2 linked regions of the Homo sapiens genome follow. The gene in region 2 interacts genetically with the main gene of each other region. Each region holds a gene or a part of one and is shown on either strand. Other genes may lie near its edges.

Evidence for each region. A genetic interaction does not mean that the proteins touch.
Region 1: changes in TOP2A (region 2) and LLGL1 are lethal when combined (synthetic lethality), as found in Homo sapiens cells (one large-scale study listed by BioGRID).

The regions. Positions count from the first base shown.
Region 1 is NC_000017.11:18,235,635-18,239,463, reverse strand, and holds part of LLGL1 (lethal(2) giant larvae protein homolog 1), read right to left. Parts: intron 2,858-3,829; coding exon 2,704-2,857; intron 2,630-2,703; coding exon 2,525-2,629; intron 1,984-2,524; coding exon 1,691-1,983; intron 1,398-1,690; coding exon 1,250-1,397; intron 1,009-1,249; coding exon 855-1,008; intron 1-854. UniProt on the Homo sapiens protein: Cortical cytoskeleton protein found in a complex involved in maintaining cell polarity and epithelial integrity. Involved in the regulation of mitotic spindle orientation, proliferation, differentiation and tissue organization of neuroepithelial cells.
Region 2 is NC_000017.11:40,393,581-40,397,739, forward strand, and holds part of TOP2A (DNA topoisomerase 2-alpha), read right to left. Parts: intron 2,886-4,159; coding exon 2,703-2,885; intron 1,960-2,702; coding exon 1,869-1,959; intron 1-1,868. UniProt on the Homo sapiens protein: Key decatenating enzyme that alters DNA topology by binding to two double-stranded DNA molecules, generating a double-stranded break in one of the strands, passing the intact strand through the broken strand, and religating the broken strand.

The DNA of each region.
Region 1 (3,829 bases), about 22 Mb from region 2:
GCTGGTGGCAGGCATGTGAGGTATGTGGGACAACTTTGCACCTCTCTATTTTTGTGTATGTTTGAAACTCTCCCATTGTACAAGTTCAAAATCAATCAGTGACTCAATCAACAAATCCAGGACCTTCCCAGGGCTCCCAGGCCACTGAGAATCAAAGCCAGGTCCTCAGCCTCTGGCCAGCAGCAGTATCTCCCTGAACCACACACCTCGACCCTCACCTGCTCCACTCCAGCCAAGTGGCTGGGCAGCTGCCCACACACATGCCCGGCTCGGGGCCTGGGCACTGGCTGGTGCCCCTCACCGTCATCCACCAGGCCTCAACCTCCCTTCTCCTGGCTCAGATCTGAGAGGCCCACCCAGCTCACTCAAAAATCCTTTACCATCCAGCTCCCCCAGAGAGACTGGGGGTGACCCAGCAGTCCCCCTGGGAGAGCTGGATGGTAAGCTTTTTTTCTGAGAAGGTCTCACTCTGTTGCACAGGCTGGAGTGCAGTGGTACGATCTCGGCTCACTGCAACCTCCGCCTCCCACGTTCAAGCAATTCTCCTGCCTCAGCCTCCCAAGTAGCTGGGATTACAGGCGCCCGCCACCACACCTGGCTAATTTTTGTATTTTTAGTAGAGACGAGGTTTCACCATGTTGGCCTGGCGGGTCTCAAACTCCTGACCTCAGGTGATCCGCCCACCTCGGCCTCCCAAAGTGCTGGGATCACTCACAGGCTTGAGCCACCGTGCCCAGCCACCTCCTGGAAGGTGCAGTCCCACCACCTCCCTTGCCACCACCCATCTCCCAGGTGGCCAATTGAGGCCAGCCCCCCCAACCCTTGCCCTGTCCCTGCCCCTGCCCCTGCCTTACCATCTCGAAGGAATGTGTCGGCAAAGTATAGGCAACGCACGACACCCGACAAGGAGTCATCGGCAGAGCGGGGCTCAATGCGGCGCTGCACGGGCGTCATCTCCACGTCGTGGGGGCAGGCCTGCTCAGCCAGCTGTGCATTGGCTTCCTGCAACTGCCGGGCGGGGGCTCCTGAACACTGTCTCCCTAGCACCCCAGTGGCTTGCATCCTGCTTTGCGCCCTACGTTCTGTTACCATTCCTCTACCACCCAGCTTAGTTCACCCATCCCTCTGGAGGGCCCAGGGGCTGCCGAGGGAGGAGCACTGAGCTAAGCAGGCCCCAGGGGTCCCAGGCCAGAGCCAGGCCAAGGCACAGGACACAGGCACAGCTCCTGTGCAGCCCACCCCAGCTCACCTTGCTGCTGGCATTAGCAGCCCGCTTCTTGCCAGAGACACGACTCTTGCGAATGCGCCGGAAAGACTGGCGCAGTGACTTCTTGAGAGACTTCACCCGGGAGAGCGGACCCTCCATGGCCAGGGAGTCATTGGGGTGAAGAGTGCACCTGGGGGAAGACAGGGTCCAGTCGTGCTATAGAGCAGCCTCCTGGGGCAGCCACCACACTCCTGCTGGCCTGTGGAGGCACCCAGGTCAGGGAGTCACAGCCCCTCTGGCGCAGTCCTATGGACCCAGCTGCAGGTGGTACTGAGAATGTCCTTCTTGGAGCTGCCAGGTTATTTCTTATAGGGCAATGGAGGTTAGTGGCCTTTGCCACACCAAACACTAGAGGTGGAAACGGAAGCCCAGACCCCATCTCGCTGGGGGCTCCAACTGCCCAGCCGGCCCCACCCCACACACCTGGCCAGCACAGGGCTCTTGCGCTGGTAGTCGAAGAGGCCAAAGCCATGACTGGTGCCAAAAGCCACGAGGCTCCACTCGGTGTGGAGTGTGACAGCGGTTACAGCAGCTGGCGGCAGGCACTGCACCAGGACACGGGGCTGGAAGCCAGCAGGCCAGGGCAGCGGCCCCGTGCGTGGGCTCAGCCGCTCGTGGCCCTTCCATGTGAAGCCCTCGCGGTCCTGGAGGAGGTCTATGATGGCCACGCTGACCGCCTGCTCCACCGGCACATCACTAAGCTCCAGTACCAGCACCTGAGCCCACAGCCAGGCAGGGGGAGCATCAGCGCAGGGGAGGGGCCGCCCTGGGCCCCACTCAGCCTGGAGCCTCTGAAGCAGCCCCAGCCACCACCAAGGTGGTTCTAGGACTGTCTTCAGTTCATCAGCTAAACAAGCACTCACTGAATGCCTACTGTATACCAAGGCCCTGGCTGAGCACAAGGAACACAGTGGTGACCAAGACACACTAGTCCCTGCCCTCTGAGGGCAAAGTGTCCACCCTTACCCTGAGCCTCTATCTCCCATTTAGCAATAAGGACACATTGAGCACCTCCTGTATGTCATGTGAGTGCCGGAGCACAGCACTGACATGAGTTCCCTCCTCTCAACACTGTGGTTCCCCCAGCGACAGGCCCACTTCCCATCTGTCCTCACCCCAGCCAGCCCCACCCAGAGCCCTATTCCCACCTTGGCTTTTGCCTGTGCCAGTCCATCTCCCTTTCCACCAGACCCTCCAGCTCATCTCTTCCAGAAAGCCCTCCCTGACATCTCCAACCCAGGGGACACCCAGCCCTACCTGGCCTGCAGTGCCAGCCACCACCATCTGGGCTGTATACTTGCAGAGAGCAACCTTCTGCACGCCAAGCCGGGGATCGTCACTGTAGGGATCGAAGCAGCCCACCTAGAGGGATGGGAAGGAGTAATGAGTCCAGGCGGGGTCAGGACCAGCTCATCAGGGCCAGGGGAGGGGCCCACCTTGCGGAAGGGTGGCCAGTCGTCCTCGGCAGCCTGGGCCAGGCTGTCAGCGTGCTCACAGTCTGTCTGGAAGAGGCCAGCTGTGCTCAGCTTATAGAGCGGCCGCAGCGCCACACCCGAGGCATCCCAGAACCTCACGGTGCCGTCCTCATGGCTGCAGGGAGGGCAGATGTCAGGGCTACCCGAGTTCCTGGGAGGCCTGCACGCCCCTCCATTCACTCATCTGATAACCACTCACTAAGCACCTACTGCACGTGCCAAACACTGACCGGAATCCTACTTTTACAAAAAACAATAGGCACCTACTGTAGACAGCACAGGTACACTGTGCACCTGTTATAGGCCAGGCCACATGCACCATATGCACCTGGAGCCTTTAAACCAAACAAGGTGGAAATGACCACCCTGATTAACAGGAGGTGGCAAAGGGGGACATGTAGAGAACAGAGGACTTTGGGGGTTCTGCCTGCACTGGAGCAGCCATCAGAGGTGATCAAGAGTAAGGCAGTCACAGAACAGAGCATGGGGCATCCCGGGGGAGGAGCTGCATGGGGCCCAAGGCAGCCACGTAGGTGGAGGAGCAGGAAGACTACAGAGGCCGGGAGAAAGCAGGGAGGGGGCAGGGGAAGGAGTAGACAAATCTAGGGCGCAGCCTTGGGACACAGCTGCAGAGTCCAAGCAGGGCCCCAGGCGGTGGTGAAAGCCCAGAGCCAGGGCGTGAGAGGTGTGTGACTGTGGGGGTGGTTGAGACTCATTCCAGCAGCCCTGAAAGCCACGGCAAGCTCTTCAGCAGGGAAGGGCACACCAGAGTCAGAGGCCTGAGGGTCCCAGCACAGGCGGGAGTGGGGGCAGGGCAGGAAGTTGAGACCTGAGTCACTGGGCACGTCAGCGCCCGCCAGGCCCACGCTGGGCTCTCTGGCACCTTCCCTGGGCAGCTCAGCGTGGGCCAGCCCAGATTTTCCAGTCCCAGGGCAGGCAGGCTGGGCGGGTGGAGCCCTGGGGTTTGGTAGAGCTCAGTTCCAGGCCAAAAGGCAGATCAGGGCAGCACCTTGAACCAAGGTCCAGGGAGGTTTCATTCCAAACCACCTTGGGCAAGGAGGAACTACCTGGTCCCACCAGGGGCCAG
Region 2 (4,159 bases):
TATAGTCAATTGATTTTTGACAAGGGTGAAGACAAACATTGTAGAAAGAAGTCTTTTTAACATATGATACTGAAATAATTGGATATCTACCTGCAAAGAATCAGGTTGGACACCTTCCTTACACCATATACAAAAACTAATTCAAAGTGGATCACAGACCTAAATGTAAGAGCTAAAACTATAAAATGCTTAGAAGAAAACACAGAGGTTTACCTTCACGGGCTTAGCAAAATGGGAGGCCGAGGTGGGCAGATCGCTTGAGGTCAGGAGTTTGAGACCATCCTGGCCAACATGGTGAAACCCTGTTTCTACTAAAAATACAAAAATTATTTGGGCATGGTGGTGCGTGCCTGTAATCCCAGCTCCTCGGGAGGCTGAGGCAGGAGAATTGCCTGAACCTAGCAGGCGGAGGTTGCAGTGAGCCGAGATCTCACTACTACTGCATACTGCATGCCAGCCTGGGCGACAGAGCGAAACTCTGCCTCAAAAAAAAAAAAAAAAAAAGAATGAAGTACTAATATATGGGCTGCCACATGGGTTACCCTTGAAAATGTGTTAAGTAAAGAAGTCAGCTCCAAAAGACCACATATTATATGATTTAATTTATAGGAAATGCCCCTAGATTTTTTAGTGGTCACCCAGTGGAGAGGAGTTGGTGGCAAATGGCAAATGATTGTTAATGAGTTCAGTTTTCTTGGGGGGCAATAAATTGTATTAAAACTGTTTGTCTATACTAAAACCACTGAATGGCATACTTTATTTTTATTTTTGAGTTGGAGTCTTGCTCTGTCACCCAGGCTGGAGTGCAATGGCACAGTCTTGGCTCTCTGCAACCTCTGCCTCCTGGGTTCAAGCGACACTCGTGCCTCAGCCTCTCGAGTAGCTGGGACTACAGGCACGCACCACCACACTCAACTAATTTTTGTATTTTTAGTAGAGATGGGGTTTCACCATGTTGGCCAGGGTGGTCTTGAACTCCTGACCTCAAGTGATCCGCCAGCCTCAGCCTCCCAAAGTGCTGGGATTACAGGCATAAGCCATGGCGCCCAGCCAAATGGTATACGTTAAATGGGCAAATTTGGCATGTGAATATCTCAATAAAGATGTTTCAAAAAAAGTAGACAGTAAAGGCATTATCAAATGATTAACAGAATTATTAATTCTATTTAGTTCATTGAGTGGACATTATTTATATCCGAAGCATGATGTTGAACTCTAGAGATACTACAAACATTACTAATATGTAGTCACTTTTCTTAAGAAACTTTGTATACTAGAACCTCGTAAGTGGCTAGAAAATGAAATCTAATAAACTGGGTATTTTCTTAGATCCCAATTAAGGAATTCAAATTAACAAACTACTTCATTACAAAATATTTTCTATAATGAATCAAATCCCAAGGACGATATTAAAGAGGTCCAGGCCAGGGGCAGTGGCTCACGCCTGTAATCCCAGCACTTTGGGAGGCCAAGGCGGGCAAATCACAAGGTCAGGAGTTTGAGACCAGCCTGACTAACATGGTGAAACCCCGTCTCTACTAAAAATACAAAAAGCAGCCAGGCGTGGTGGCATGCACCTATAATCCCAGCTACTCAGGAAGCTGAGGCAGGAGAATCGCTTGAACCCAGGAGGTGAAGATTGCAGTGAGCCGAGATTGTGCTATTGCACTCCAGCCTGGGCAACAAGAGTGAAACTGTCTCAAAAAAAAAAAAAAAAAAAAAAAGAGGTCCAAGTAGAATTGAGATACAGTCCTCTTTCACGTTTCTCAATTCAACAAAAAGGTTTTGAACATCTATGTGGAATGTACTAGGTAACAAACACAATTTAATCTTCACTTTATACCATTTTTCTAAAAATGTTGTAATACCTGGTTCTCTTTTCTGTTTCTTTTCTAATCTTTGTTTTAGGCCTTCTAGTTCCACACCATCTTCTTGAGGGCTTCCTTCAGTATTTTCATTCTAAAAGATAGCAAAGTTAGGGTTGGATATAGAATAAATTCTGAACTATGGGATTAGAGATTTTATACATTTTTGGCTGGGAGCGGTGGCTCACGCCTGTAATCCCAGCACTTTGGGAGGCCGTGGTGGGCAGATCTCTTGAGGTCAGGAGTTCGAGACCAGCCTGGCCAAGATGGTGAAACCCCATCTCTACTAAAAATACAAAAATTAGCTGGGTGTGGTGATGTGCCCCCAACTACTTGGGAGGCTGAGGCACGAGAATCGCTTGAATACGGGAGGCGGAGGTTGCTGTGAGCTGAGATCCTGCCATTGCACTCCAGCCTGGGTAACACAGCGAGACTCCATCTCAACAACAACAACAAAAAAATTTTATACATTTTTTTTTCAATTTTAAGTGGACATATGCATCAATATTTTATGCATAATATTTTTAAGAGTATTACCTCTTTTTTTTTTTTGAGATGGAGTTTTGCTCTGTTGGCCAGGCTGGAGTGCAGTGGTGTGACCTTGGCTCACTGCAACCTCTGCCTCCCGGGTTCAAGCGATTCTTCTGCCTCAGTCTCCCGAGTAGCTGGGATTACAGGCGCCTGCCACCATGCCCGCCTAATTTTTTTAATTTTTAGTAGAGACAGGGTTTCAACCATGTTGGGAGGCTGGTCTTGAACCACTGACCTCAAGTGATCCACCCACCTTGGCCCCCAAAGTGCTGGGATTATAGGTGTGAGCCACCACAAGAGTATTACCTTAATTTTCTTTTTATTTTTCTTTTCTGCCTCTGCTTTCATTTCTATGGTTATTCGTGGAATGACTCTTTGACCACGCGGAGAAGGCAAAACTTCAGCCATTTGTGTTTTTTTCCCCTTGGCCTTCCCCCCTTTCCCAGGAAGTCCGACTTGTTCATCTTGTTTTTCCTTGGCTTCAACAGCCTACAGAAGGGATATAAGAAAGCAAGTTTAAATGTTAACAAAAACATTACAATATCTAAACACCCAACAGTTAAACTGATTTCATTTTGTTACATCTTAAAAACTAGTGATAAATTGCTCCATAACCTAGTATACTATCAACAATAGTGAAGATGTAATTAAAACACACCTTGAAAAGGAAGGTGTGGAGACAGAAGGACTGGGTTTTATTCCTGATTCTACCACTTAACCTTTTTGAGGAAAACAAGGGAGAAACTAAAAATAAAACATGTATATACATATATATTTGTAAACTCACATACAAAATATGAAAGGAAGTGATGCACACTTATCCAACCAACTGATTACAATGAGCTAGGCATCTATACTGAAGTGCAGTAATACAAATTTGCATGTTAAATTTAAGAAATAAAGCTTTTGGTGGTTTTTTTTTTGTTTTTTTTTTTTTAAGAGACACGCAGGCTGAGTACAATGGTACATGATCATAGTTCACTGCAGCCTTGAACTCCTGGTCTCAAGTGATCCTCCCACCTTGGCCTCCGGAGTAGCTGAGACTATAGGCCCACACCACCATGCCTGGCTATTTAAAAAAAACATTTTGTAGAGATGAGGTCTTGCTACGTTACCCAAGCTGGTTTTGAACTCCTAATCTCAAGTGATCCTCCTGCCTCAGCCTCCCAAAGCACATTGGGATTACAGGTGTGAGCCACAGTGCTGGCCTTTTTTCTTATGTTAAAATAATGTTGAGAAACAAATGTTATTAGGAAGATTTAAGTAACAAATAACCTTCTGAAACCATCTGGATAGCCCTGCTTTCTCCTTTTTTTTTTTTTTTTTTTAGATGGAGTCTTGCTCTGTCACCCAGGCTGGAGTACAGTGGCGCAATCTCGGCTCACTGCAACTTCTGCCTTCTGGGTTCAAGCAATTTTCTTGCCTCAACCTCCTGAGTAGCTGGGATTACAGGCGGATGCCACCACACCCAACTAATTTTTGTATTTTTAGTAGAGACAGGGTTTCACCATGTTGTCCAGGCTGGTCTCGAACTCCTGACCTCAAGTGATCTGCCCACCTCAGCCTCCCAGAGTGCTGGGATTACAGGCATGAGCCACCATGCCCTGTGGCTTTGTCCTTTTAAGTTGACTTGGGGGACTGGGTTGGTGGTCTTCTTCCACATTTAGGCTCTTTTTATCTTCTCAGTCCTAATATGTTCTTCCCTTTATCAAAAATCAACTCCTGCTCTTTTCTTTTTTTGTCCAGAAATGTCTGAATGTCTG